7 linked regions of the Homo sapiens genome follow. The protein of the gene in region 2 purifies or fractionates together with the protein of the main gene of each other region. This does not show direct contact. Each region holds a gene or a part of one and is shown on either strand. Other genes may lie near its edges. The genes, in order: NUP210, STK32C, FAR1, HAUS5, ASPM, SLC27A4 and IQSEC1.

Evidence for each region.
Region 1: the proteins of STK32C (region 2) and NUP210 purify together in Homo sapiens (affinity purification with mass spectrometry; one large-scale study listed by BioGRID and IntAct). This does not show direct contact.
Region 3: the proteins of STK32C (region 2) and FAR1 purify together in Homo sapiens (affinity purification with mass spectrometry; one large-scale study listed by BioGRID and IntAct). This does not show direct contact.
Region 4: the proteins of STK32C (region 2) and HAUS5 purify together in Homo sapiens (affinity purification with mass spectrometry; one large-scale study listed by BioGRID and IntAct). This does not show direct contact.
Region 5: the proteins of STK32C (region 2) and ASPM purify together in Homo sapiens (affinity purification with mass spectrometry; one large-scale study listed by BioGRID and IntAct). This does not show direct contact.
Region 6: the proteins of STK32C (region 2) and SLC27A4 purify together in Homo sapiens (affinity purification with mass spectrometry; one large-scale study listed by BioGRID and IntAct). This does not show direct contact.
Region 7: the proteins of STK32C (region 2) and IQSEC1 purify together in Homo sapiens (affinity purification with mass spectrometry; one large-scale study listed by BioGRID and IntAct). This does not show direct contact.

What each region holds. Positions count from the first base shown.
Region 1 is NC_000003.12:13,322,463-13,326,495, reverse strand, and holds part of NUP210 (nuclear pore membrane glycoprotein 210 precursor), read left to right. Parts: intron 1-564; coding exon 565-701; intron 702-3,063; coding exon 3,064-3,187; intron 3,188-4,033. UniProt on the Homo sapiens protein: Nucleoporin essential for nuclear pore assembly and fusion, nuclear pore spacing, as well as structural integrity.
Region 2 is NC_000010.11:132,224,320-132,228,352, reverse strand, and holds part of STK32C (serine/threonine-protein kinase 32C), read left to right. Parts: intron 1-163; coding exon of another isoform or gene 164-224; coding exon 225-376; intron 377-1,384; coding exon 1,385-1,558; intron 1,559-2,568; coding exon 2,569-2,606; intron 2,607-2,736; coding exon 2,737-2,826; intron 2,827-3,016; coding exon 3,017-3,120; intron 3,121-3,829; coding exon 3,830-3,946; intron 3,947-4,033.
Region 3 is NC_000011.10:13,720,562-13,724,594, reverse strand, and holds part of FAR1 (fatty acyl-CoA reductase 1), read right to left. Parts: exon of another isoform or gene 3,901-4,033; intron 2,866-3,900; coding exon 2,736-2,865; intron 1-2,735. UniProt on the Homo sapiens protein: Catalyzes the reduction of saturated and unsaturated C16 or C18 fatty acyl-CoA to fatty alcohols. It plays an essential role in the production of ether lipids/plasmalogens which synthesis requires fatty alcohols.
Region 4 is NC_000019.10:35,615,462-35,619,494, reverse strand, and holds part of HAUS5 (HAUS augmin-like complex subunit 5), read right to left. Parts: intron 2,372-4,033; coding exon 2,302-2,371; intron 2,209-2,301; coding exon 2,126-2,208; intron 1,641-2,125; coding exon 1,583-1,640; intron 1,425-1,582; coding exon 1,300-1,424; intron 1,094-1,299; coding exon 1,030-1,093; intron 927-1,029; coding exon 796-926; intron 609-795; coding exon 446-608; intron 72-445; coding exon 1-71.
Region 5 is NC_000001.11:197,105,022-197,109,054, forward strand, and holds part of ASPM (abnormal spindle-like microcephaly-associated protein), read right to left. Parts: intron 165-4,033; coding exon 1-164. UniProt on the Homo sapiens protein: Involved in mitotic spindle regulation and coordination of mitotic processes.
Region 6 is NC_000009.12:128,350,498-128,354,530, reverse strand, and holds part of SLC27A4 (long-chain fatty acid transport protein 4), read right to left. Parts: coding exon 3,956-4,033; intron 1,894-3,955; coding exon 1,784-1,893; intron 1,507-1,783; coding exon 1,297-1,506; intron 1,117-1,296; coding exon 990-1,116; intron 1-989. UniProt on the Homo sapiens protein: Mediates the levels of long-chain fatty acids (LCFA) in the cell by facilitating their transport across cell membranes. Appears to be the principal fatty acid transporter in small intestinal enterocytes.
Region 7 is NC_000003.12:12,896,401-12,899,877, reverse strand, and holds the end of IQSEC1 (IQ motif and SEC7 domain-containing protein 1), read left to right. Parts: 3' UTR 1-443; coding exon of another isoform or gene 444-488; 3' UTR 489-2,835; downstream 2,836-3,477. UniProt on the Homo sapiens protein: Guanine nucleotide exchange factor for ARF1 and ARF6. Guanine nucleotide exchange factor activity is enhanced by lipid binding. Accelerates GTP binding by ARFs of all three classes.

The sequences.
Region 1 (4,033 bases), on a different chromosome or scaffold from region 2:
AAGGAAAAACAAATATAATTTGCCATAAATAGATTATGGTTGAGTCCTTTAATTGTACTTATTATATAATGTGATTGGCTTTTAACTCAGATGTGTATGTGGTGAAAGCTCTGAGCCTCACACCTGCTGTCTGTTGCTAAAAAGGAATTGATAAGGCAACGAAGGGATGGGGAGGGGCTGTGCTTTGGGGAAGGAGCTACAGAGGGCAGGGCCTGGCAGCAGCACCAGACCATTCCTGGGCAGGAGTCAGCTAAAGCTTCATGCCAGGATGGTCAGGAGATTCCAGGCAGGGAGTTGTGGGTCAGGGAGAGCAGGTGCTAGGGGCCACAGCCCTGTAGAGGGCGGGTGCAGCAGGGTAGGAGAGCTGATGGCTCCAGGTGGCTGGAGTCAGGAGCATGACCGGCACTGGGGCAGGCAGCGTGGCTGTCTCCTGAGGCTGCTGAGTGAGCCCCCATGGGGGTAGCGGCAGCCAGCGAGGAAGCTGGCCTGTCATCCAGGTGAGCTGGGCTTTGACTGGAGTGTCCAGCTATGGAAAGGGGGCTGACACCTGTGCTTCCTCTCCAGGCCTCTCAGGAACCTGGAGCTCCTCGGCCAACAGCATCCTCCACATCGACCCCAAGACGGGTGTGGCTGTGGCCCGGGCCGTGGGATCCGTGACGGTTTACTATGAGGTCGCTGGGCACCTGAGGACCTACAAGGAGGTGGGCTCTAAGCAGCCGGAGGCACATGTGGCTCAGTGGCCTGTGAGGCGGGCCTGACCTTCTGGGAGGATTATGAAGACTTTTCCTTTTAGGGAAAAGCCGTCTGAGGGGTTGGGTCTGGGAGTCATGAGTCTGGGACTGGCCACTTGCTGACTCTGACATGGGGACAAGCTCCCTTTTTTTTCCAGGCTTCAGTCTCCCCATGTTCAAGAGGGTGTGATGAGGACAGGCAGCCTTGTAGGGTGGATTCCAGCTCCCATGGGCTTGGGTCTGGCAACCCCGGAGTGGGCACTTCCTGGGAGCCGGTGCTTCCCTGTCACCTGCAAGGCTAAGACTCCCTGTGCAAGTCACCCTTTGAGTCTGGAGGCGACAAAACCTGCTGTCTCTTCCATTCATCTCCAGTTGAGAATGAATCAGTGGGGCAAGTCTGGCTGAGATCCAAATGCATCTCATTTTTAGAGGCAGCATGTGCTTTATGGAACCTAGCAGTTTAACCTAATTGTTTGCATATTTAGTGCTGCGGCTCTGCAGTTTGGGCGAGCCAGTTGCAGACAGAGGCATCCTGTGACAATACAGCTGTGCTCTCCTGGAAAGAGCCTCTGGTCAGGGGATGGGGTGGCATGGACAAAGGTGTGTAGGGTTCAAGGGCAGAGCCTCGGGGGCTGGAACAGAGGGTGTGGGAGAAGCATGGTCTGGCTTTGTGATCAGATCAGAAAATGCACCAGATTCCAGGCAGTTTGGTGCAGGTTGAGGGTGGGGCATCTACAGCTAGACGGTCTAGGTCAAATCCCAGCTTGGCCACTGCGAGGCTATGACTGAGCAATCATTGAGTCTCGCTATGTCCCGATTTTCTTGCCTGTATAATGGGGATGATAGCGTTGTGAGGATTTAGTGAGTTAGCACGTCAGAAGCCCCTAGGGTGGTGCTCAGCTCATAGCCAGTGCTCAGCAGAAATTAGCTGCTGCTGCTGCTGCTGTTCCAGGGTGAAGGGGTAGAAGCTTATGCCACACTCAGTGGAGTTTTTTAAACAGTGCTATAGACCAAGGCTGTGTTTGCAGAGGTTACCTGGCACCTGGAGGAGCTCGAGAGAGCAGTCGCTACAGGGTAACTGGCCAGAGACTGAGGCCAGGCCCTCAGCTGGGATCACTGGGTGTGGCAGAATCTAAAGGCAGGTTTGGGAGAGACGGGAGGGAGGGAGGCACATCAGAGCTCCATGAGCATCCAGAAGTGAGGCTGGAGGGGAGGAAGGGCTTGGGATGACCAGGCTGCTACTGGTCCTTTGCTGAGAGGGGCACACAGAGGTAGGTAGGCCTGCAGGGAGGTGAGGAGCCTGGGCCGGGGAGCTAGAGATGTCACAGCTCTCCCAGGTGAGGCAGGAGGCACACCTGGGTGGGTGCGGCAGGAGCACTGTGAGGAAGGCTGGACAGGGTGGGGGCCTCAGCCCAGAAGTGGCCTCTGAAGCCCTGGGAGTGGGTGGGAGTGCACGGGCACTCCAGGAGTGCAGGCAGGAGAGGGGCCAGGAAGCCTTGGGCACTCTCTGAGGGTGGACAGGGAGGAAGGGGAGAGGAGGGCCAGCGTTGGGGGGTCCCAGGCTAGAGAGTGGGACACAGCCTCTGTCAGTCCCTGGAGGTGGATGGTGGTAAGCCCTGAGCGGAGGCACCGTGAGTTTGACAGTGATGCCTGGTCACCTACAGCTCTGCATGGGCCACATCCCTGGGAGCTGCAGGGGCTTCAATCGCATCCCTGCTCTGAAGTTCACCTACTGGTAGAAATCAGATCTCCTGGAGGCAGGGAGCGCTGGTGCCTGCTGAGAGAGGGAGGGGGGCCTTCAGCTGCAGGAAGTGGCCTTGGGCCTGAAGGGTGGATGAGGCTGGGCTCTGCAGAGAAGATGGGAGGGTGTCCTAGCCAAGGGAGTGCAGGGAGGTCTCCAGCCTGGGGCTGTTTGGGTGTGGCCAGGTACAGGATGGGCACAGGGGGAACAGCTGGGAAAATCTGGGCAGACTGGATTCTGGGTGGGGTGTGGTGCTGTACTACAGAGAAGTGATCATGGCTGTCCGAACAGCCAAAATCCTCAGCCCACCCAGATCGATTAATGAATTCAGGCCCGCTGCTCAGCGTCCAGTCAGCTGCTGGGGGAAGCAGCTTGTTCAATGGGAGAACTGGGCTGTGAAGTCTGACCAGACTGGGCTCAAACCCCCTCTCTGCCACATTCTAGCAAGGCGTTTAGGCTTTGAGCCTCAGTGTTGCCACCTGTGAAACGGGTGACACTATGTCACAGACTGCAGGGTGAGGTTGTGGAAACGCCCAGCATGGACCGGGACACAGGCGGCGCTCCATGAAGCTTCCTTGGCTCCCTCTCTAGGTGGTGGTCAGCGTCCCTCAGAGGATCATGGCCCGTCACCTCCACCCCATCCAGACCAGCTTCCAGGAGGCTACAGCCTCCAAAGTGATTGTTGCCGTGGGAGACAGAAGCTCTAACCTGAGAGGTACTTAATGAGGGGCTTGGGCTGTCTTCAGAGTACCTGGGAGCGGGGAGGTGGCTTCCTGTGTCCTCTGGATGGAGTTTATCTGCTTCTCCTATTCACACTCACACCAACTCCAGAGAGGGCATTTAGCCCCCACTCATCCACTCCTTCCAGCGTTTCTGAAATTGGAGTCCTCCAAAAGCTGAGCCAGTGAAAGGAATCTTCATAATGGAGCCCAGCTCCCAGAAGGTGCCTGTTCTGCACTGGAAATGTGACTTCAGCCCGAGGGCACCCTAGCAAAGAAAGCCACAATTTCCCACCGTGAATCCCAGAAACTAATGAATTAGCAGGACTCGTCACTGGTTTTAATTTTTGTAATGACCTCTCCCAGGTCATGCATAGAATGTTGAACCCCATCCCCTGCCCATGACAGCCCTGAACAGCAGCTGCCAGAAATAAGTAAGTCAACAGGGCTGTTTTCTTAAACCACCTCACTGGCAGAGTGAAGCACCGCCCTTCTCGTCCTGATTAACGAGGCAGCTCTGTTCCATCATGGCAGCCTCTGCTCCTTCCTCAGCGCAAGTGGACAGCACTGTGCCGTTGCCTAAATGCTGCTCAGATGTTAGTGGAGAACTAGTGCCCTCTGAATGTGCAGAAGTAAATTGCCGTTTCCCCTGCTGACAGGGACAGAAGACAGGCATTAGTGGGCCTAGCCCGTCTGCCGTGCCCCTGGATGCAAGGTCTGGAACAAATGCTGAAATTCTGACTTGAAGCTCCCTGTGATGCCGATGGCATCCTCTTCCATATGATATGTCCTTGGCTTTACCAATCCTGGCTGCATCTCAAAGCTTTGAGCCGCCCTGGGGC
Region 2 (4,033 bases):
CCTCCAAAACACCCACATCTTAATCCCCAGAGCAAATATGTTACCATATGTGGCAGAGAGGAATGCACCTGCCGCGTCTAGGAGGCAGAGGGGCTGCGGCGCGTCCCCAGGTGTCCCCTTGTGTCCTGACGATGCGTCCCCAGGCATCCCCATGCATTTCCAGGTGTCCCCACGTGTCCCCAGGCGTCCTCAGGCGTCCTGCCGAACAGCCCTGTGCCCTCCAGGTGTGCATTGTGCAGAAGCGGGACACGGAGAAGATGTACGCCATGAAGTACATGAACAAGCAGCAGTGCATCGAGCGCGACGAGGTCCGCAACGTCTTCCGGGAGCTGGAGATCCTGCAGGAGATCGAGCACGTCTTCCTGGTGAACCTCTGGTGAGCCTGCCATGGCCTCGCTGCAGAAAGACTTACCGTCCTGAAGCCGGGAAGGCACTGGCTATCCTCTCCTGCCCTTGGTGCTCCTTGGCCCTCGTGCCTCGGAGATGCCTCTGCCACCCACAGGCCCTCTCTAGCCCTCCTCATCTATCCCCCTTCCTGTGCCCCAGGCCTGGCAGTGGCCCAGGTGGCCATGACATGCTGGGGTTGGTTAATGCAGTGTCTCTTCTGAGCCTGCCGGAAGACCAGGGCTTCCCTACAATGGAGATGTGCTCCCATGGAGTCTCTGGCACTAGTCAGAGAGGGAGAGAGTTTAGGGACTGAAAAACTCACCACTGTCATCACCATCACCATCACCACCATCATCGCCATCACCACCACCATCACCACTGCAACCATCATCACTCTCATCACCGTCATCACTATAATCAACACAATCACTATTGTCACCACCATTACCACCACCACCACGACCACAATCACTGTTATCACCATCACCACCACCCTCAGTCCTCACTACCGTCATCCTCACCATCACCGTCACCACCACCACCATCACTGCCATCGTCAACACCATGGATGCTGGTTGTTAAATGCCAGCTCTTTGCCCAACACTGTCAAGAGTGGTACCTACACGGCCTCATTTTCTGTAACAACCCTCCGAGGCAAATGTCTGTATCCCCATTTTACCGAAGAGGAGGCCGGGCAGCCTGAAGCACCCGGAGCTGGCACTGTAGCTCTGCTCTGCATTTGCCACTCCCAGGTGCCTCTGGCCCCAGCTGGGCCACCTCCAGCACAGGGTGGTGTGTCTTTCCTCAGGATCTGGGCTCAGAGCTGCTCTGGGCTGGGGTGCAATCAGTGCCTTGGGCAGGCCCCTCCTCCTGGGAATGCCTGGTGGCTGATGCTGGGGTGGGGCTGTGGTCCTTAGGGGGAGTGTGTCAGCTGTGGGAGCAGCCATGACTGGCTCCCCAGCTGTGCGCACAACAGGCCTTCCATCGGTGCCCACAGGTACTCCTTCCAGGACGAGGAGGACATGTTCATGGTCGTGGACCTGCTACTGGGCGGGGACCTGCGCTACCACCTGCAGCAGAACGTGCAGTTCTCCGAGGACACGGTGAGGCTGTACATCTGCGAGATGGCACTGGCTCTGGACTACCTGCGCGGCCAGCACATCATCCACAGGTGTGTGCGTGGCAGACGGCGCAGGTACCTGCTGAGGTGGGCGGGGCTGAAGCAGCCTTAGGTCAGGCTGCCGGCACGGCGGCCGTACTCCCTCAGAGCGGGTCTAGCTCCTCTGCCCCACCCTTGCCTGAGTGCCTGCCCCCAGCTGTGGCACCTGTGCCGACCAGGTCAGCCCCATAGCTGTGTGCCTGGTGTCCATCTGGGGGGACCTCGTCCCAGCAGCCCCAGCTGAGACTGGGCACAGTGGGCTGTTAGCCCTGGTGGACAGACCACCAGGCTGGGTCACAGCAGGTGGCCTTCACCTGGTCCATTTAACTGAAGGCTCCTGTTTGCCCATCCACCACATCCCAGGGAATCCAAACTAATTTTAACATTAGCTTAAAGCAGATGAAATTAGGAAGCAGAGCTGGTGTGATGGCTCTGAAAATAAAATTTAAAAAAAGAAAATAGGAAGCAGATTATGAAGGAAGTGAAATTGGGAAGCAGAAATTAGGCTGAAATTCCGCAGCAATGGAACAAAATGAAAATATCTGTGAGGTATATTTTAAAGTCGAATGGACTGGTGTTTGCATTTCTGCTCTTGGGGACTCGGATGTCTGATTATGACCTAGGCACCAGTCACTGAGCACTGGCTGTGTACCTGGAAAAGTTGGGACAAAGCAAGAGCCGAGGTGGCTTGGTCTCCTAGAGGCCGAGTCTTGGAGGGGGAGGGCAGACCCTGCCAGCAATTGCTCTCGTCCTCTGGGGCTCCAGGCCCCCTCCCAGCATCTGGTGCCAGGTGTGTGCTGCTGCCCAGATGCCACAGGGAACGAAGTGGCTGACTTCATCGCCTCTGCCCCCACGCAGGGGTGTGAGGTCCTAGCATCATCCAAGGACCAAGTCAAGCTCCCAGGCCTCTGCCTCGAGTGGGTTGGTGGGATGTCCTGGGGACTCCAGGGATTGTGACAGAGATTCCAGGGCAGAAACAGGGCAGATTCCCAACTCACCTTCCCACTTTCTGCTCTTTCTAGAGATGTCAAGCCTGACAACATTCTCCTGGATGAGAGAGGTGTGTGGGGTTGGGTGTGGGCAGCCCAGGTGGGTGGTGGCAGGGATGGGCCTGTCAGGGGAGGAGGATCCTGCACGCAAGGATGCATCTCTGGTCCTGGGACAGCCACACCTGACCCCTCTCTGCACAGGACATGCACACCTGACCGACTTCAACATTGCCACCATCATCAAGGACGGGGAGCGGGCGACGGCATTAGCAGGCACCAAGCCGTACATGGGTGAGCCCGAGCTGGGGTTCCAGATGGGAGCTGGCTTCCTCCAGGTGGGAAGGACAAGACCTCGGTGGCTTCTCTGTCCCACCCTGGAGGCAGCCTGGTCTCGGGATGTGGCCTCAAGGTGCCGGCCCTGTGCCCACGGGTCCGGGCTGTGACCCCGTGGCAGCTGTTTTTCCTTCTTTCTGTCGGAAAGCTCCGGAGATCTTCCACTCTTTTGTCAACGGCGGGACCGGCTACTCCTTCGAGGTGGACTGGTGGTCGGTGGGGGTGATGGCCTATGAGCTGCTGCGAGGATGGGTATGGACCCCCTGCAGCCCCTGGGCTTGGCTGCCAGGCCCCTGCTCTCTGCCCCCACCAGTGCTGGGGAGGGGGTGGCTGCCCCAGTGTCCAGGTGCGCAGGGATGTCTCCACTGTGTCTGAGGAGTCACGCTTTTATCGAAGTGTGTAGTTGGTGATGGAATGCCTGAGCAGGAGGAGGAAGGACAGACTCACTGTGGTTTCCCGGGGCCGCTGCTGGTGCCTGCAGGCCAGCCTCTGTGGGGGTGGACAAGGCTGAGAACTGGCCAGCAGGGGTGCTGCCTCGGAACTTTCCACAAAAAGTTTCTTTTGGGGCCCTGTGCTCTTACCCTTGTGGCCACGGCGAGGCCAGTCCTGGAGACCGGGAGGCTGGGGGTCCTCTTGTGGACCGTACCCCTCAGCCCTGCACAGGACCCCACCTCTGAGGAAGCCAGCTCCCTCCTGGCCCTCTGGGGCTGATCTACCTGGACCCAGGCCCCCTGGGATCCCAGCCAGATGGGCGCAGCAGCCAGGGCGCAGGACCCAGGCGTAAGCTTTATCTCACCCAGGCTCCTCCGCGGCAGGTGGAGGCCAGGCTGTGCTCAGAGCTGTGCCTGCACTTGGGGTGGGGGGAGGGGGTCCTCTCAGGGCGATGGCACCTGTGTCTGGCATTGTTCTGGGTGTCCTGGGGGCCAGGAGGACCTGCCCAGCACTGCCTCCCTGTCTCCAGAGGCCCTATGACATCCACTCCAGCAACGCCGTGGAGTCCCTGGTGCAGCTGTTCAGCACCGTGAGCGTCCAGTATGTCCCCACGTGGTCCAAGGAGATGGTGGCCTTGCTGCGGAAGGTGAGCCCCCATCCCTGAGCCTCCTCACCCTCCGAGCACCCACCTCCCTCCCTCACTTACCTGCGGCTCGGGACACCCCCTCCAGTG
Region 3 (4,033 bases), on a different chromosome or scaffold from region 2:
ACTGTAATGACCCAAATCTACAGTCTTTTTTTTTTTTTTTTTTTTGAGGCGGAGTCTCGTTCTGTCACCCAGGCTGGAGTGCAGTGACACAATCTCGGCTCCCTGCAACCTCTGCCTCCTAGGCTCAATCCATCCTCCCACCTCAGCCTCCCAAGTAGTTGGGACTACAGGCATGCGCCACCACGCCTGGCTAATTTTTCTTTTTTTTTTCTGTAGAGAGAGGGTCTCACTTTGTTGCCCAGGCTGGTCTCGAACTCCTGAGCTCAAGTTATCCCAGCACTGGCCTCCCAAAGTGCTGGGATTACAGGTGTGAGCCACCACGCCCGGCCCCTACTGTCTATTTAAGGCCTACATTAATCTGAGTTGTGCTAAAAACCTAATCAGATATTTTAAAGGGGCCCTGGCTTATAAATGCCAGCTAGCTAATTAACTAGGCTACTGGTAGAAGCAAAGGCAAATCCTTATCAGAAAACTGCAATTTCAATCCCGGCTTCAAAAAAATTCTCACAGAAATCCTCAAAGAATATAAATTTATAGTCAAACAAATATTTTTTAAAAAAATTAGGTGCCATGGGTGAGACCTAGCTCAAGTAATAGATGGCAGAATCAGATGCTGCAAATCATCTGCAAGTTTAAATTATCAGAAGCAGAATGAAAAACAATTATATTTAATATGTTTCAAGAAAAAATTCTAGAGACTGTTTAAGAAACATTTATAAGATCTGAAAAATTATACTTTCTAAAACTGAAAATAAAACAATAAAACTCTAAATTCAATTGGATAGTTTAGACACAGCTGGCAGACTGTCACAGAATCTTAAATTATCTAGAGTTTAGCCCAGAAACACTGAGATACAAAATATGAAATTAACGTTAAAAGATTTGGAGAACAGAATAATCTAACATACACTAGGAATTTTGGAAGACGATATAAGAATAGTGAAGAGGCAATATTTGAAGAAACACTGGCTAAGTATTTCTCTGAATTGCTTAAAGACACCAAACCTCAGATTCAGAAAGCCCAATGCAATCTAGGTAAATTTTTCAAAATTACACCCACTATCATAGTGATACTGCCAAGCGGCAAACATAAAGAGAAAATGGAAGACGAGCCAGGAATAACATATCACCTATAAAGGAAGAGCCAACTACCGACTTTTCAACAGCAAAAATGTAAGACAGAATATAAATAAAAAAGTTTTTTTTTGGGGTTTTTTTTTTTTTTTTTTTTTGAGAGACTCTCACTCTATTGTTCAAGCTGGAGTGCAATGACGTGATCACATCTCACTGCAGCCTTGACCTCCCGGGCTCAACTGATCCTCCCACCTCAGCCTCCTGAGTAGCTAGGACTACAGGCACATGTCACCATGCCTGTCTGATTTTTTCTTATTTTTGTGGAGATGGGTCTCGCTACATTGCCCAGGCTGGTCTTGAACTCCTGGCCTCGAGCCATTCTTCCACCTCAGCCTCCAAAGTATTGGGATACAGGCATGAGCTACTATGACCAGCAAAAAAGTTCTTTAACGTGCTGAAATCATGTTCCAAAACCAAGGGTGAAACAACACACATATCAGACAATCAAAAACTCAGAATTCACTACAAAACAGATTCCCAAGTAAAACATATTCTAGGTATGCTGAATATATTTCAGGCAGAAAGAAGATCATAAGGAGAAAATCTGAAAGCACAGATATTGGTATACATATATACATATTTTATATATATATATATATATAGAGAGAGAGAGAGAGGGAGAAATCTAAATAAAAACTAAATGAACAAAAGAGTATCTCAACATGGGGTTTAAATAGAGAACTGTGCCGGGTGTGATGGCTCACGCCTGTAATCCCAGCACTTGGGGAGGCTGAGGTGGGCAGATCACCTGAGGTCAGGAGTTCCAGACCAGCAGCTTGGCTAACATGGTGAAACCCCGTCTCTACTAAAAATACAAAAATTAGCTGGGTGTGGTGGTATGTGCCTGTAATCCCAGCTACTTGGGAGGCTGAGGCAGGAGAATCGCTTGAACCCGGGAGGCAGAGGTTGCAGTGAGCCAAGATTGTGCCATTGCACTCCAGCCTGGGCACAGAACGAAACTCTATCTCAAAAAAAAAGAAAAAGAAAAAAAAAATTAGAGAACTGAAGTAATGTATTAATACAACCATTTTAAGTGAGTGGGAGTGGTAATCACAACTAAAACATTTTAAGGTTCTAAATATTATTATTATTAAGAAGGAGGCTATAAATATTGCTTAACTTAGTCTGTGTTAGATATACATGTTAAAACATCTAGAGTAAGCTCAAAAAGAACATACACAAAGAATTTAAGTTCCAAAGTAACAAAGGGCAAAATGTGGAATAACAAAAAGTAAAAGAGTTTATAAAAAACAATTTCTTAGAGAAGCTTTTTCTCAAAACTCAAGAGAAAACAAAGTGTTTGAAAGAAAAACACATAAAGATAAAATTCTCTCTGAAACCAACATTAAGGGAAAAAAAGAATCAACATTTCAATCATGCTTTGAAAATACCTTTGCCACTCTAAAATACTTACACTAGAAATGTTAAGATACAGCAATTTTATTTCACCACTAACAATTATGACTAAAGCTTTATGAGAGACTATAAATAATGGCTTACTTGTTGCATAATAGCTGTGGAAAATATTTCTCAGGTTGCTAATAGTTCTGTAATTAGTATGCTACTTATTTTCTAATATAAAACAGAAAATACTTGCTTGCCTTTTTATCTTCAGGGTTTAGTTGATTCATTAACATATTGACATTCTCAGTATTCCAAACCCAAGAATTACTTGTGAAATATTCAAGAAACACCATAGCTTTGTGAAGACGAGTTATTGTTTTCATCATCCTGTATTGTAAGAAAAATGGACAGATTCATATTTTGTATAGATTAGGAAAAATCCTATCACCACCCAGGGTGCAAGTTTCCCCCTATAATATAGACATTAGTATTAAAATTATAACATTTAATCATTAAGTGTACCAAATCAGCAGGGAATAAGACTATTTCTGCATCTTGGATGAACAATTTATAAATCCAAAAGGAAAACAAATTTTTTTTGAAAGCAGCAGCAAATGCATTTAATACCACCTAAACAGAGTTCTGCTGATATACAGAATTAATTCTCAAAGGGTATACAATACTCTTAAATTTTCTACATAAAATACTAAGCAAATGAATGGATTCAATTAATATTTCCTTGCTTTCTATTCCTTAAACTACATTTTAATTCACAGCTGCATTTGCTAAGATTTCCTGTGAATTAATAACATACTGTGTTATATTTATAATTCCAACTCTTCAGCACTGCTGAAGCAAACAATACAGAAATATTCGTTTGCCACATAGTCAACTCTATTCATTTAAAAAAACAAAACAACTTTTCTTTAACAATGATTGGCACCACTCTTGATCATCTGGATGTGCTGTGAAATCAATGACTCATGCTGAAAACTATCTGAAATAGATATCCACTCACCTCTCCATACCCCACCAATACTCATCCTTACAGAAATAAAGGAGTGTGACACTCTTTTTAAAGTGTGTCTTTAAAGAAAGACTGTGATTCTTTGTTTTTAAAAGTACAAGGAGCTTTAATCTTTAAATCTGTCATTTTATATATCATGGCTCACTGTAAGTCATTGATATCATAACACTAACTTGAGCAGTAACATCTATACAATAATATTTATTATAAGTAGGGAAAGGGAAGAAAGAACTTTCTGAAACAAAACAAACACCAAAAAAATCCCCACTTCTGTGAACAGAAAAAGAATTTTTGGAGAAGTACTTTTTAAAGATTTCATTTATATTATAATAACGATTAGGATTATATGTATCATGTAGTTTAGACAGTCTCAAAATTAGGGGTTTTAGAAATGGGAGGGGCATGGAGGGAAATTACATTAGAAATAAGGAGAAAAAAATCAAAAAAGTATCATTAGCTAAGCACTTCTGATAACACAATTCAATACATTTAGAAATAAACTCTGAATCCAGAATACTGGAAGAAAAT
Region 4 (4,033 bases), on a different chromosome or scaffold from region 2:
CTCCGGCACAGGCGGGTCTTGCTGGCCGAGTTTCCCTTGATGAGCAGGCGGACCTGTTCCTGGGTCTCCTCCTGAGGAACCAGGATACCCTGAGACCCACTCCTCCCAGCTCCCAGCCTCAGTGTGCCTCTCTGCTTAGGTCCTGCTTCTGCCTGGGAGTCTCACCTGGGCTCTTGCCTAGGAGGCCCAGTTCTTAATTTTTAAGTGACAGCATTCTTTTTTTTTAAGTGATAGCATCTTGCTCTGTCACCCAGGCTGGAGTGCAGTGGTGTGATCATACCTCACTTCAGCCTTGAACTCCTGGGCTCAGATCCTCCCACCTCAGCCTCCCAAAGTGCTGGAACCACAGGCATGTGCTACCACACAGGGCTCAGGCCCAGTTCTTAGCCATAGTTTTCAAGCCTCCCCTCTGGCCCTCCACAAGGCCCTGGGCCTAGCCTCTCACCACCAGCTGGCGCCAGTGCAGGATCCGCTGCTGTTTGGCCTGTAGCTCCCTCAGCAGGAGCTGCCGATGCCCAGCTGCATCCTGCAGCTCCTGGCTCTGATCGTGCAGGGCCTTGAGCTCCGTCCACAGGCAACAGCGCCGAAGCCCCAGTATCAGCACCTGCCTGCAGGGCAAGTGGAGGAGAGCAAAGGAGAGAAGGGTGACTGAGCCACACAAGGGACCATAAACCAGGGAGAGACACTGCAGGGAGAGGAGGCAGAGATAGGAGCCACAGAGGCTGAAAAAGTCCAATGGGCTGAGACACTCAGAAGCGAGATGGCCTAGAGACCTCTTCTCGGAGAGCCCCCCACCTCTCACTGGATCCCAGGACGCGTCTCTCCACCTCCTCCACCAGGCCCTGGAGGCGCTGGGTCAAGACTTGCCGCTCCTTCAGGAGGGTGCTCCGCTGGGAGACCAGCACACCCACAGTCCGCCAGCCCTCCTGCAAGCGGGGTACAGAATCAGGGTACACCCAGGGCATGATCCATGGGTGAGGGGATTAAGGAAGTCTTGGAATGTGGTGGGGAGGCGAGCCCTGGGGTCACCTGGATGAGATGAACCATGGACGGCAGGGTCTGGCTGGAGTCTGACTGGTCCGGGGCCTGGGGTCTGGGGTGGGGGAAGAGCTGCTGAGGGAGCCGTGCTGCGGCCTTGCCTTGGTACTCGAGGGTGGACAGTATCAGTCCTGCCACCCCACCAGGCAGTGGGTTTCAGTTCTACCCCATCAGCAGGTGGCTGGGCCAGGGGTCCTGAGGCTGTCCCAGCTCACCCACTCACATGGCCTTCCCCAACTGTGAGAATACCCTGCCCCACACCTGGATATCTCTGTGTCGCCAAGCCCATCCCCACTGCACAGGGACCGAATCTCTGCCTCCCGCTCTGCAGCCAGGTGCTCCAAGGCAGCCAGGACGTGGCCTGGGGGGTGGTTTGTCAGCAGCGTCTAGGGGGAGGGAGGGTGAAGTCAGGGCAGGATCGGGGCAGGGCTGTGAGCTGAGACCCCATGGGAATAGGGCTGTCATCAAGAGTTAGGTCCTGGCACCCTAAGTTTTGATCAAGGAGCGGGAGGGTGTGGCTTTCCTGAGAGCCCTGCCCTCTCACCTCCACTGAGCTCAGCCACTGCTGGTACGAAGTGCCAAAGTGGTCATCATGAGGGGTTCTGTGGGGTTGGGTAAGCGGACAGAGAACGTTACAAGACACGTCAATTATCCTCTAGTTATCACCACCACCCTATAAGGTAGGGGCTGTCATCTTCCCTATGCCTGTTAGACTTGAGTTCCCCAATTATACCAACCTGCTGGCTTTGGGGCCTTTACATGGGTTGTTCATCTGGGACACTCTCTGGACCCTTCACCCCAGCTAAGCCTCCTCACCAGAGAACCTCTCCCCTCCCTGCCTTCTTAGCTGGGAAAGGCACTGCCTCTGGGTGCCCAGAGCCTCTCAGGCCTCCTCACTCCCGCAACAGCCCTGACCACCTGGCTGTCACTGTTTGTGATGAGAGACTGTCTCCTTCTATTCCCAGCCTGGAAGTCCCCTTCTACAGAACGTAGCCCAGAAGCTCAGTGTCTGAGGAATTAATAAATAAGAGACCCCCACTTAAAACCCAGGGTCTTTACAGGGTCTCTGGGGGCTAGGGACACTCACGGGAGGCTGCCCCTCTTGGCCTGGGGAAGCAGGAGGTTCTGCAGGAACTGGGCCCGGAGGGTGCAGGCTGTTCGGACATCACGCTAGGGAGAAGAGGAGGAAGGGACCTGAGGGGGACCCTAGCATCTGCCTGACTCCAGGCTCCCTGCCCCTTCTCCCATGACCAGGACTCTTACCAGGACCACGGGCTCCAGGCCCAGAGCTGCCGACGTGAGGGATCCAAAGGTCACATCTACTTTGGCTTTCCTGGAGGGAGAAGTGCAGCTGGGGCTGGGGTCCCTGGGAGAACAGATGTCTGTGCCCCATCTCCTCTCACTGCCAGCAAGGCCGGTCAGAGGAATCACTAAGCCTAGATCTCGGGAGCCATCTCCAGATTAGGCCACTGTCACCTCCCAGCTGGAATATTGCATTAGCCTCCCCACTGCTTTTGCTCCACGAGACTGTTTGCCACCCAGAAGTCAGTGATTCTGTTAAAACTGTAGGAAGATCATGTCCCTGCTCAGATCTGTCCAAAATAATGTGATGTTTCCCCAGCGCATTCAGAATAACAATGGGCCCAGCGTGGTGGCTCATGCCTGTACCCCAGCGCTTTGGGAGGCTGAGGTAGGTGGATCACTTGAGGTCAGGAGTTCAAGGCCAGCCTGGACAACATGGTGAAACCCCGTCTCTACTAAAAATACAAAAATTAGTCGAGCACAGTGGCATGCGCCTATAATCCCAGCTACTGGGGAGGCTGAGGCAGGAGAATCGCTTGAACCCCAGAGGCAGAGGTTGCAGTGAGCCAAGATCATGCCACTGCACTCCAGCCTGGGCAACAGAGCCAGACTCTGTCTCAAAAAAACAAAACAAAACAAAACAAAAAAACCAAACCCAGAATAACAATGGTTAACAGGCACTTCTCTAAGCACTTCACATGATTTATTCCACCTAACGATCATGCCTACCCTATAAGCTTGGTATTAATATTATCCCCATTCCACAGATCTTAGAATCTGAGGCACATAGAAAGAAGTTAAATACCTTGCCCAAGGTCACCCAATTTTTTTTTTTTTAAACAGAGTTTTGCTCTTGTCACCCAGGCTGGAGTGCAGTGGTGCAATCCAGGCTCACTGCAACCTCCTTTTCCTGGGTTCAAGTGATTCTCCTGCCTCAGCTTCCTGAGTAGCTGGGACTACAGGCACGTGCCACCACACTCGACTAATTTTTGTATTTTTTAGTAGGGACGGGGTTTCACTATGTTGGCCAGGCTGGTTTCGAACTCCTGACCTCAAGTAATCCGCCTGCCTCGGCCTCCCAAAGTGCTGGGATTACAGGTGTGAGCCACCATGCCCAGCCTTAGGTCACCCAATTTTAAGTGGCCAAGCCAGGGCATGAACCAGTGTCAGGGTAAAATCGCAACACATCATCCACAGTTCTCTGTCCACTCCTTCGACCTCACCTCCTCAGGTTCTCGGTCTTGCCTGAGAAACTTGAGCTGACATTGGCCTCCGGGCTGCTCTTCCTGCATGCTGAGCACACCACCTCTGCTCTTGCTATTCCTTCTCCACAGAAATTCCTCTTCCAACTCAATGTCCCCTCCTCAGAGGCCTTCGCTGACCACCCTCGCTAGGGCAGCATCTCCCTCTCCCTTCTATGATAGGCTTTTCTTCACAGCACTCATCTCTACCAGAAATGATAGGGTCTGTTTGGTTCCTACTTTACTATCTGTCTTCTCTGTGTCACAGCATAAGCTCCAGGAGGGCAGGGACATGTTCTCTGTTTGTGGCTGTTTCCCCAGGGCTGGTGTTCTAGGTATACAGGTGGTATCATTCTAGGCACTGAAAATACAGGTGACTGAGATGACAAAACCTCCTGGCCTCATGGACATTCCATCCTAATGGTTCCAGAATTCTGGAACCCAAGAAGGGA
Region 5 (4,033 bases), on a different chromosome or scaffold from region 2:
CTTCTTAAATAAGCACGCCAATGCCTCTGAATTGTAACTGTAGCCCAAAGATATCGTTTATAAGATGTAACAGCAATTATCATTCTTATCCTAGATTGCAGGATGATTGAATAATATTTCAATTTCAGAAATCTTTGTCTAGTGGAATATCTTCTCCAATATCCCTGGAAAAGGTAAGAAAGGACACAAAGTAAAATAGGCATAGCTTTCTATATTTAACACTTTTCAAAATACTAATTTTTCTAACATTCTGCTTAAAAATAAACACATTGAATTAGAAAACTAATTATTTTTGTGAGATATTTGTCTCTTTTGTTTTTAGTTTAGGTTTTACATTGATATACCTGTAGCCAATTCAGAAATCCATCCAAATCTTCATTATATTTAAATACTGCATTTGTATGCCAGAATCATAAGAAACATAAGCAAGTTTATGTTATATTACAAGCAAAAGAGTCAAAATAAAACTATAGTAATATTCTTTGCTATCTATTGATTCTAAGTAATTTCCTATGAGTTTATTTCTGGGCCTTATATGGTCCCCTTACTTCAATGTTTCTAAGCTACCTTATAATGACTAGAAACTGTTTATGTGAAGGATCCTGCATTATCACATTACAGGCCTGATAATATAAATATAGGAATTTAGGAATAAATAAACCAGATCACTCTCAGAGTCATTATTTTCATTAAGAATAAAATTACTTCCTTTTCCCAAATTTAGGAACTATAAATACATGGCTTAAAAGTAGAATTCTAGAAAGACTTGAGAAATGACAAAACTTTTGTCTTTTGAAAAGCCATGGTTACAATGGCTAATCCAACTGTATGTTGGCTCAACAAAAAGAGCTACAAACTCTCAAGCTAATTCCAGTTGCTGGTATCTAAAATGGTCCCAGGCTAATGGTAGTCAAGTTCTAGATGTTTTAGCAATAAGACCATTCCTTTGTACAAACACTCCAAACATTGCTGAGATTGGGGGTGGCATGGAGAGGTTGTTCTCTACTACATCTTACTTTTTCTCGCATATAAGTAGAGTAATATAGGGACTGGGTACCTCGCTCTCCTATAGCAGTATCGAGTTTGCTTGCAGCTATCACTGGCCTAAGCATACCTATCCATGGGTGAGGAAGCTTAAGGAGAACATGCACATCCCTTTTCCTGACCCTTTTCCTGTAAGTTTTATTGTCTTCTTCCTCTACTAAATGTTACCTGAGGTTTTGTTCATACTCTTCAACCTGACAGGAAATGATTGTATACATTTTATCTTACCAAGAAGAGATGCACAAGTTGTCAAAATATTTATCCAACAACAGTCAAACTTATTTGTACAAAAGTATTTTGAAAACAATAAACTCTACATAAAGTATTAACTTGCTTTAAATTAGGGCAAAGTAAAGCAGTAATAGTACTCAGAAATTCAGATATTATTTTTCTTTTGAGCACCCACCCCCAACAGATATTTCTATGTAAAATCCTCAAACTAAGAAATTGAAGAATCAGTGTGTACAGATTGTTTTATACTTTAATAATCACTTTTTCTACATTACTATTACTACTCCATTACTGAAATGTTAATCAATGTTGATATATAACATGGAAGATATGATCATCTCCTCTCCTAACAGTTTTGCTTATTACAATAGCAATTTTTTCACCATTGTCATACAATTCTTAAAAATAAATAGCTTTTACTAAGGAACACATTACATACAATTTTCTCACTTAATTCTCACAAAAATACATTAAGTTGGCATTGTTTCTTCACTTAAAGAAAGGAACACTAATGTTACAAAACTTTTTGCAAAGTCCCACAGCAAATAAAAATAATTGATCTTAGGATCTACATTATTACACCAAAATCAAATGTTCTTTCTACTCTACCACAGATATCTGCAGCAGGTTGAGTGCATTAACAGCCCAATTCTTCATCTCTCCCAGTAACTATAACCTGTGCCATACTTTGTTTTTCCTCATACAAAAGAGTTTCTCTGCTTGAGATATGGGCGCAGTCATGGAAAGAATGCAGTAGAGCAGTGTAACTCAATCTTCAGTTTTCTGGTCAGATGATGAAACAAGGCAGCCCTGAGGAACTAGAGGGTACCAGGGAGATGGTAGAGACTGGGGAGCTCAGGGAAGCAATCTGATAATGTTGTTTATGAATTTCTAGGTTCACCACCAAGTTGTGCACAATGTGAATCTAGACCACAGTAGGCTATAGACTTTAAGAATTGAATAAGATACAGATCACAATCTAGATCCCAGACTGGCTACTGGGTGTTACATAATGAAACTGATATGATACAAATATCACTCACTGTAAAGGCTTTCAAAAAGGAACTGTCACTGAAGCTACGCTCATGGAAGGCTGATGAGAACAGGTGGCCTGAACCCAATCAAGTGAATTAGCTGCTAAAACTAAAATATCAACATTCTCCATAGGATTTAAACAAAACATAGAGTCTGATAACATAACATTAAATTTCCAGAATGCAATTAAAAATTATTTGACATACAACATAACAGAAAAATTTCAACTCTCACAAGAAAAGATAATCAATAGACACCAATGATGAGATGACAAAGATACTGGAATTGGAATTAACTGACAACGACTTTAGAGCAGATAAAGTAAAAATGCTACAACAAGTTGAAACTAATGGAAAGATAAAAAGTCTCAGTAAAGACATCAAAGATATGAGTAAGAACCAAGTGAGAATAGTAGAACCGAAAAACACACTAACCAAAATAAAAATTCACTGGTATGGCACAATAGCAGAATGGAGATGACAGCCAAGATGGCAAATATCTCAGCTTTGTGGGCCAATTCTGTTGCAACAAGTCAATTATGCTATTGTAGTACAAAAGCAGCTCCCAAATAATACATAAACAAATAGTTGTGACCATATTCTAAAAAACTCTATTTATAAAAACACATGGTAGGCCAAATTTGGCCTGCAGATATACCAACCTCTGACCATGATAGACCATATTGTGGATCATAAACTAAAGGTTATCAAATAGGAAAGAATTGAAATCACAGTATGTGCTCTGGTCATAATGGAATTGAAGAAAAAGTCACTAACAGAAAAATAATAGGAAAATCTCCAAACATTTAGAAAGTAAATAACATATTCTGAAACTTTAAATCATAGAAAAAGCCTCAAGAGAAATTAAAAACTATTTGAACTGAATGAAAAAAAAATACCATATCAAAATTTGTAGTATGTGGCTAAACCTGTATTTAGAAGAAAATTTATACCATTAATGTGTTACATTAAAAGTGGAAGGACTCAAATCAGTTACTCAAGATTATACTTAAAGAAACTATAGACAGAAAAGCAAAATTAATCAAAACAAGAAATAATAAAGACTGAGCAGAGACCAATGAAGCCAAAGGGTTGTCCACTGAAAAGATCAAGAGAGTTAAAACTCTAGCAAGACTGACAAAGAAGAAAAGAGAAGATACAAATTATCAATATCAGGAATGAAAAAGGGAATATCACTACAGACTACCCAGGCATCAAAAGGATATTAAAGATATACTTTGTATATACATATGGTAAATTCAACAACTTGGATGAAATGGACCAATTCTTCGAAAATTAGAAACTGCCAAAACTCATCAAAGATAAATAGTCCTATACAAATTTAAAAAACAGAATCTGGCAAGGTGTAGTAGCTCACACCTGTATTCCTAGCACTTTAGGAGGCCAAGGCAGGAGGATGACTAGAGCCCAGGAGTTCGAGACCAGCCTGGGGAATTTAGTGAGACCCTATCTCCACAAAAAATACAAAAATTAGTTGAGTGTGGTGGTACATGCCTGTAGTCTCAGCTACTTGGGAGGCTGAGGTGGGATGATGGCTTGAGCCTAGGAGATTGAGGCTGCAGTGAGCTGTGTTTGCACCACTGTACTCTAGCCTGGGCGACAGAGCAAGACCCTGTCTCCAAAAAAAAAAAAAAAAAAAAAAGTCCAGAGAAGAATGTTTGAGATGATGAATATGCTAATTGTCCTAATGTGATCGCTATACA
Region 6 (4,033 bases), on a different chromosome or scaffold from region 2:
GATGAACATAAGTCAGGCTCCTTGGGGACAGCCTAACAAAGCCAGCGCCCCAAGCCTCTGCTCCATGCCGGGACCCACTCAGAGTTTTATGTTCTTTATGAAACATAATCCTCAGGCCAGCCCCATGTGTGGGTGCTGCCATGGGCACAGTTTGTAGATAAGGGGACTTAGGCACAGTGAGGCTGAATACTCGCCCATGACACAGAGCTAAGGAGCTGAGCCAGAATAAATCTCAAGCAGCCTGGACTCAGGGTCATTTGGAGTCAATATGAAAATGAATGAATGAGGGCCGGGCATGGTGGCTCACATCTGTAATACCAACATTTTGGGAGGCCGAGGTGGATGGATCACTTGAAGTCAGGAGTTCGAGACCAACCTGGACAACATGGTGAAACCCCATCTCTATTGAAAATAGAAAAACTAGCCGGGCATGGTGGGGTTTGCCTGTAATTCCAGCTACTCAGGAGGGTGAGAAAAGAGAATTGCTTGGCCGGGCGCGGTGGCTCACGCCTGTAATCCCAGCACTTTGGGAGGCCGAGGCGGGCGGATCACGAGGTCAGGAGATCGAGACCATCCCGGCTAAAACGGTGAAACCCCGTCTCTACTAAAAATACAAAAAATTAGCCGGGCGTAGTGGCGGGCGCCTGTAGTCCCAGCTACTTGGGAGGCTGAGGCAGGAGAATGGCGTGAACCCGGGAGGCGGAGCTTGCAGTGAGCCGAGATCCCGCCACTGCACTCCAGCCTGGGCGACAGAGCGAGACTCCGTCTCAAATAAAAAAAAAAAAAAGAATGAATGAATGGACTGATGTACAGATAGAATGGCGAATGAATGAATGAATGGATGGATACACAAATAAATGAGTAACTTGTAACCCTAAGAGCAGAGATAACTGATGGCCACTGGTCAGAACAAGGCTCCCCATCCACACGCGCCTGGCCTCCTTCCTTCCCAGGCCAACCCCTCCCTCTCTGACCCCGAAGTGGCAGACCTGGCTGGCAGGGAATGCAGACGCCGTCGGGCCCCCGGATCAGCTCCATGGTGTCCTCGTTGACACGTACCAACCGGATGGGGTACACGAAGGACAGGATGCGGCTATTGAAACCACAGGCCCCCACCTGCGAAGGCCAAGACTTGGGCCTGGGCTCTCTCACCATGGGCCCAAAACTGGACAATGAGGGGGAAGTGGGACTCCAGCACCCACACTCTCACGCTCGAACTCTGCCCTCCCCTCTGCATCCAGTGCCTTCTGTGGGCCATCCCTGCAGCAGCCTCGCCCATCCCCAACCTGGCCGCACCTGGCTGTCGAAGTTGCCCAGGCTACAGTTGCACTCTGTGGCCCCGTAGAACTCAGCCACCTGGGGTATGTGGAAGCGGCTGGAAAAGTTGGTCCAGATGGACTGCCGGAGGCCATTGCCTAGTGCCATGCGAACCTGGTGCTGGTTTTCTGCCTCCCGCGGTGGCTGGTTCAGGAGGTAGCGGCACAGTTCACCAATGTACTGCACAATCTGGGGGTGAACTTGGTGTGATTCGAGGCTCCAGAGGCTGCCCTCACTACACTAGGATTCTCCTGATCCCTCAAGCCCCTACTCTCCCCAGGGGCTGGCCATGCCATCCTTTCCCTCTCCGGGTCTCAGCCTTCCCATCTGAACAATGGGAACTTTGCCACAAATGAGCCCTTTGGAATGACTGGCCACCTCAGCTATAAGACAGATGCCCCGGAGTGTAGTTGGGAAGAGGGTAACTAGGGGAAAGGGACAGCTCACCCTTCCCGCTCTCGCTCACCGTGCAGTTGTACTTGATACAATCGTCCCAGAACCGGGAGGCTGAGAACTTCTTCCGAATCACCACCGTCATGCCATGCAGCAGGCACTGGCCGATTCCCACGATGTTTCCTGGAGGCAGAGGGATGGCCCCTGAGGGTCAGCGAGATGAAGACCCTCCCCGGCCCCAAATCAGTGATACTGCCATCCAGCCAGGCAGGCTTGTGCTGCCCTGCAGGCTTCTGCACCTCACATCTGCCTGCCTTGGGTGACCTCCTCCAAGAAGCCTCCCCGGCTTCCATCACCAGGCTCTTCCCTGGTGCTGCCCTCTTGCTCCCTGCCTCTCTCCTACACTCACATATACACCCGACTCTAAGCACCTGGAGGGCAGGAGCTATATTTATTCAAGCTGTCTTCCCTTAAGCCCCTACAAACAAGCAGCAATGCCATGCATATCTGTGGAAACAAACTGAAATGAGACAGGCCCAGATGCCCCGTGGGACACTGCCACACACACTGTGAGGCTGGTGTGCTCATCCTTTTTTCAATTTAAAACAACTTTTTTTTTTTTTTTTGAGACGGAGTCTCGCTCTGTCGCCCAGCCTGGAGTACAGTGATGCCATCTCGGCTCACTGCAAGCTCCGCCTTCCGGGTTCATGCCATTCTCCTGCATCATCCTCCCGAGTAGCTGGGACTACAGGCGCCCGCCACCACGCCCGGCTAATTTTTTTTTTTTTTTGTATTTTTAGTAGAGATGGGGTTTCATCGTGTTAGCCAGGATGGTCTTGATCTCCTGACCTCGTGATCCGCCCGCCTCGGCCTCCCAAAGTGTTGGGATTACAGGCGTGAGCCACCACACCTGGCCTAAAACAAAATTTTTTTTAGAGACAGGTCTCACCATGTTGCCCAGGCTGGCCTTAAACTCCCAGGCTCAAGTGATTCTCCTGTCTCAGCCTTCCCAGTAGCTGAGACCATAGGCATGTGCACCACGCCTGGCTAATCCTGTTTATTTTTATTTTTAAATTAAATTAAATTAATTTATTTATTTATTTTGAGACAGAGTCTTGCCCTGTCACCCAGGCTGATGTGCAATGGCACGATCTAGGCTCACTGCAACCTTTGCCTCCTGGGTTCAAACCATTCTCCTGCCTCAGCCTCCTGGGTAGCTGGGATTACAGGCACCCGCCACCAAGCCCAGCTACTTTTTGTACTTTTAGTAGAGACAGGGTTTCACCATGTTAACCAGGCTGGTCTCGAACTCCTGACCTCGTGATCCACTCACCTCCCAAAGTGTTGGGATTACAGGCGTGAGCCACTGCGCCCAGCCTATTTTTATTTTTTTTGAGACAGTGTCTCGCTCTGTTGCCCAGGCTGGAGTGCAGTGGCGTGATCTCAGCTCACTGCAACCTTTGCCTCCCAGGTTCAAGCAATTCTCATGCCTCAGCCTCACAGGTAGCTGGGATTACAGGCACACGCCACCAGACCCAGCTAATTTTTTTTTTTTTTGAGACAGTGTCTCGCTCTGTTGCCCAGGCTGGAATGCAGTGGCGTGATCTCAGCTCACTGCAACCTTTGCCTCCCAGGTTCAAGCAATTCTCGTGCCTCAGCCTCACAGATAGCTGGGACTACAGGCACACGCCACCACACCCAGATAATTTCTTTCTTTTTTTTTTTTCCGAGACAGAGTCTTGTACTGTTGCCCAGGCTGGAGTGCAGTGGCACGATCTTGGCTCACTGCAAGCTCCACCTCCCGGGTTCACGCCATTCTCCTGCCTCACCCTCCCGAGTAGCTGGGCCTACAGGCATGAGCCACCACACCTGGCTAATTTTTTGTACTTTTAGTAGAGACGGGGTTTCACCGTGTTAGCCAGGATGGTCTCGAACTCCTGGCCTCAAGTGATCCGCCCACCTTGGCCTCTCAAAGTGCTGGGATTACAGGTGTGAGCCACCACACCCAGCCTAATTTTTGTATTTTTAGTAGAGATGGGGTTTTGCCATGTTGGCCAGGCTGGTCTCGAACTCCTGGCCTCAAGTGATCCGCCCACCTTGGCCTCCCAAAGTGCTGGGATTACAGGTGTGAGTCACTGCGCCTGGCCCAAAGCTGTGTGTTTCTACTGCAGCACACTGCCTGATGGGGGTGGGGTTCCTAGAGACCTGGCAGGTGCTGGAGGCTGTGTGACAGCCCTAGAGTTACCTGCTGAGTGGTAGAGGGGGAGGCAGTCATAGACGATGTCGTTGGGCCGCATGCGGAATCCATAGTACACCAGGGCAG
Region 7 (3,477 bases), on a different chromosome or scaffold from region 2:
AAGTGACCAGCTCTCATCCTCGTCTCCCCAACACCATAACGTCCTCATCCCGCCTCCAACCCACACCAGGCCGAAGCCCTCAGAGAGTGTTTTCATCAGGAACCACTCTCGAACCTGAAGGTTGACTTTAGCGTTTAGCAACCCAGGGCGGTGTGTGTGTTTCCCGTTTTGTTTTCTGAGTGGTAGCAGTGATCACCGTAATTCCATGTAGCCATGTGCTAGCAGAACCCCTGTGTCCTCACCGTGGCCCGTGTGACCCCAGCCGACGAGTGCCCGGCGGAGCCCCCGCTGCCTTCCCATGGTCCAGTGAGCTGCCAGGGCATCACATGACTCTCAGCTGTGCTCTTGTCGCTTCTGTGTTGTGGTGACACCATGCGCTCCCCAGGGCCAGACCTGCACGCGGCAGGTCTGTGCCCGAGTCACCCACGGGCCATACTTTGTAGTTTCAGCCTTTCGAGCCACTGCAGCCGTCAGTGCTGTGCTCCTAAGCCATGGGACCCGAGGACTGCCCCCCGGCGCCTGCCCAGGCGGAGGCCCTTTCAGAAAGGGCGAAGCTCACGCCTGACTCTGCGGGCCGCGGGGCCGCGTTCCCAGTGGACAGCGTGGTGAGCCGTGGCCGGACGGCAGGAGGAGAGGGGAGCCCCCTCTGGCTGTGTGTCACCTTGGCTGGCTGGCTGGCCAGGGTTTTGCCGATTTCCCTCCTCACATCCCTCCCACCCTCGGTCATATCATTGAGATCACCGTACCAGCAAATCTGCAAACCAAGCACTTTGTTAATCTCCAGAGAGAGCAAATACAGCAATCTAGAGTTTAGCCTTTTTAAAAATGTGACTTTAACCCGCCCACCTGTGTCCTCCCATTGGCGTGGCATTTCTTTGGTGTCTGCTCAGAAAGAAACAGCATGGGACCGTGTGATTGGGTCCAGGCTGGGCTGTCAGGGAAGCGCCCTGGTGTCTCCGACTCATCAATTCTCGGGTCTTTTTTAAAAGCCAGGCTCCCCAAAGCACTCTGTCTCGCAATTTTGAGGAGGCTGTTCCGACCTGGAAGCGTTAAACTGCTGCATGTCATCTGGCGTCAGCTGTGAGGCTGCGCTCTGCGTGTTGTGCGTTTGCAAAATGTATTGGCGTGACTGTAAACACATCGTTGAAGTAAAGCGATTACATATTGAGTATGTCAGCTTTTCTCACCCTCTTCTGTGCTGGGAGGAGAGTCTAACTGTAACCTTTAGGTTGTTCCAGAAAAGATTCAGGCCGTTTGGCACAGAATTGCTCTTTCTGAAGGGTAGCAGTAATGAATAGGAACAGACAGAAAACCCCAGGAGGGGCTTTCAGGAAACTCTCCCTCTCCATCGCCATCCTGCAAGCTCCACAGCCTCGGGCTGCCAGCCTGTGGCACTGTCCTCGGTGTGTCCTGGAGCTGTGCTGGGCAGCAGGGCCTCGCGTAAGGAACTGCTGGAACCCACTGAGCCCTTCCCGGGGTTTCCCGCCGCACTCAGTGTGTTCCTTCAGGCTAGTGAGGTTTCATTCTGTTTTATTTGCAAGCTTATCAAAAGTTTGTGGAAGATACATTGTTGGGTTCCAGAGGCTGGAGTCATGCTGCCCACATCTTGTTTGGGAAAGCAAAAGCTCCCAGTGAGCTGGTGTCCCCGTGTGTCTTTCATGGGACTGTCCCCTTTAGAGATCCCACCTGTCAGAGCCACAGCTTCGGGGTCCTGTCATCACATCCCCTGGGAGGGGAGGCAGGAGGAGGCCGAGGGCCCCAGGATGTCTGCCTGGTCCCTTCTCACTGTGAGGACGCCCTTGGCACACCTTTCTCAAGTCACACAAATTACTGCAGTTACATACAGAATTGCTGACAGGAGCAGGAGACGCTGAGGGAAACAGCTGGCAATGTGACAAAAGTCTTTTCTGGGACAACAATCAAATCATGTATTTGTATTTTTTTAAGTTTACCAATGAATTGTACAACAATGTAAAAATAAAGTTCATCCTAATATGCTGTGCACATCTTGCTTAAAAATGTCTTCAGCACCCAGTGCAGTGATCTTTCCCTCACACACTGCATGCAGCAGGAGCCTCTTGTTTTTCTTAATGAGCTGAAAAGACAGCAGATGTTCACAGCTGATGCTGGGTGTTGACTCAGCGCCACGGGAAGCTCTGTGCCCGCAGGTAAGCACGCACAGTCTTACAGTTCTCCTTGTAAAATATCATCACCCTTCCTGCCTGAGAAACGAGTACATTTGTATTTTATGTAACAACAATAGTCAAGGCAGCATTGCAACACTGAGCAGGGTGAGGTGGGGGTGCTGAGCACAGGACAAGAGGGAGGAGGCCTGCCCTCCATTCAGATGCATCTGCATCGCCCTTCTGTGTGCAGTCACATCGAGACTGCACACAGCATGCATCTCCTCTTGGAAAATATCTTTTGCCTCCGAGTTGTTTTAAGCAATTAGAATCAGGTCCTGAATCCCCAGACTGTTCAGAGACTTCAAGGGACACCTCCCTCACAAGAAGCCTGGCACCCCCACTGTGTACCTTTGAGAGGAAAGGAGTGCGTTTGTTTTCATCTGCATTCTGTTTGTCAGTGGCAACAGACTCTATCAATGTAAAACCATGGTTGTGATCATGTGGGGAAATCAAATAAATCCTTTGAAACTCTCGGATTCTCACTTTTTCTGAAAAGTCCAGAAGTTGCCCTGTTGGCCAGACCCAGATCTCCAGCTGATGAGTTTCCCCATTACTTGTTGTGACTCTGGGCACTCACTTTCCTTGAAGACATTGGACTGACTGAGGACACTGATACAAAATTTAAAATAAAGGGACACATCACAACCAATAGAAGGTTTCAAAGGTATTTATAATTTCTAGCAACTTTCAACAAGTGATGGTCCTTTCATGGAGTTAGAGGGGATGAATTCTATTAAGCGTTGAGGTACACTGATTATGACTTAGGGAAAAAAATACCCAGTGGCCCAGTCCCCAGTAAAGATGGATGATGACAGGAGTTCAGAGCAGCCTGCGTTTCCATGTTGGCTCATATCATGTACAAAAGCCAAGATGGTAAAGTCATTCTCCTGGAAGGAAGGGGCCTGTGAGGATGTAATTGGCTTCTGCGATTTCTCCTTTCCTGGCCAAACATAATTCCTGAGAACACCACTTTAAACTTTCAGTGCATGGGATAAAAGGAACTGGCAGATCTAACTAGTGGAAAACCAAACAAAAAAAAGTTAATTTTGGTGACCAAAATGAACTCTGGCCCTCCCTCCGTACAGCACATTCTGATTGAAAGATGTTCTCACAGGGGCCCCCTCTTCCAGTCTCATTCATAGCCACTACTGGCTCATCTAGACTGAAACCAGGAAACCAGCCATTTCAGTGCACACACACAAGTGCCTTGCACAATGCCTGTTTCTGCAACTGGGCGTCCATCCCTTTTACAGACTATTCAGGGGCCCTTCAAGAGAAGCTGGGTACAAAA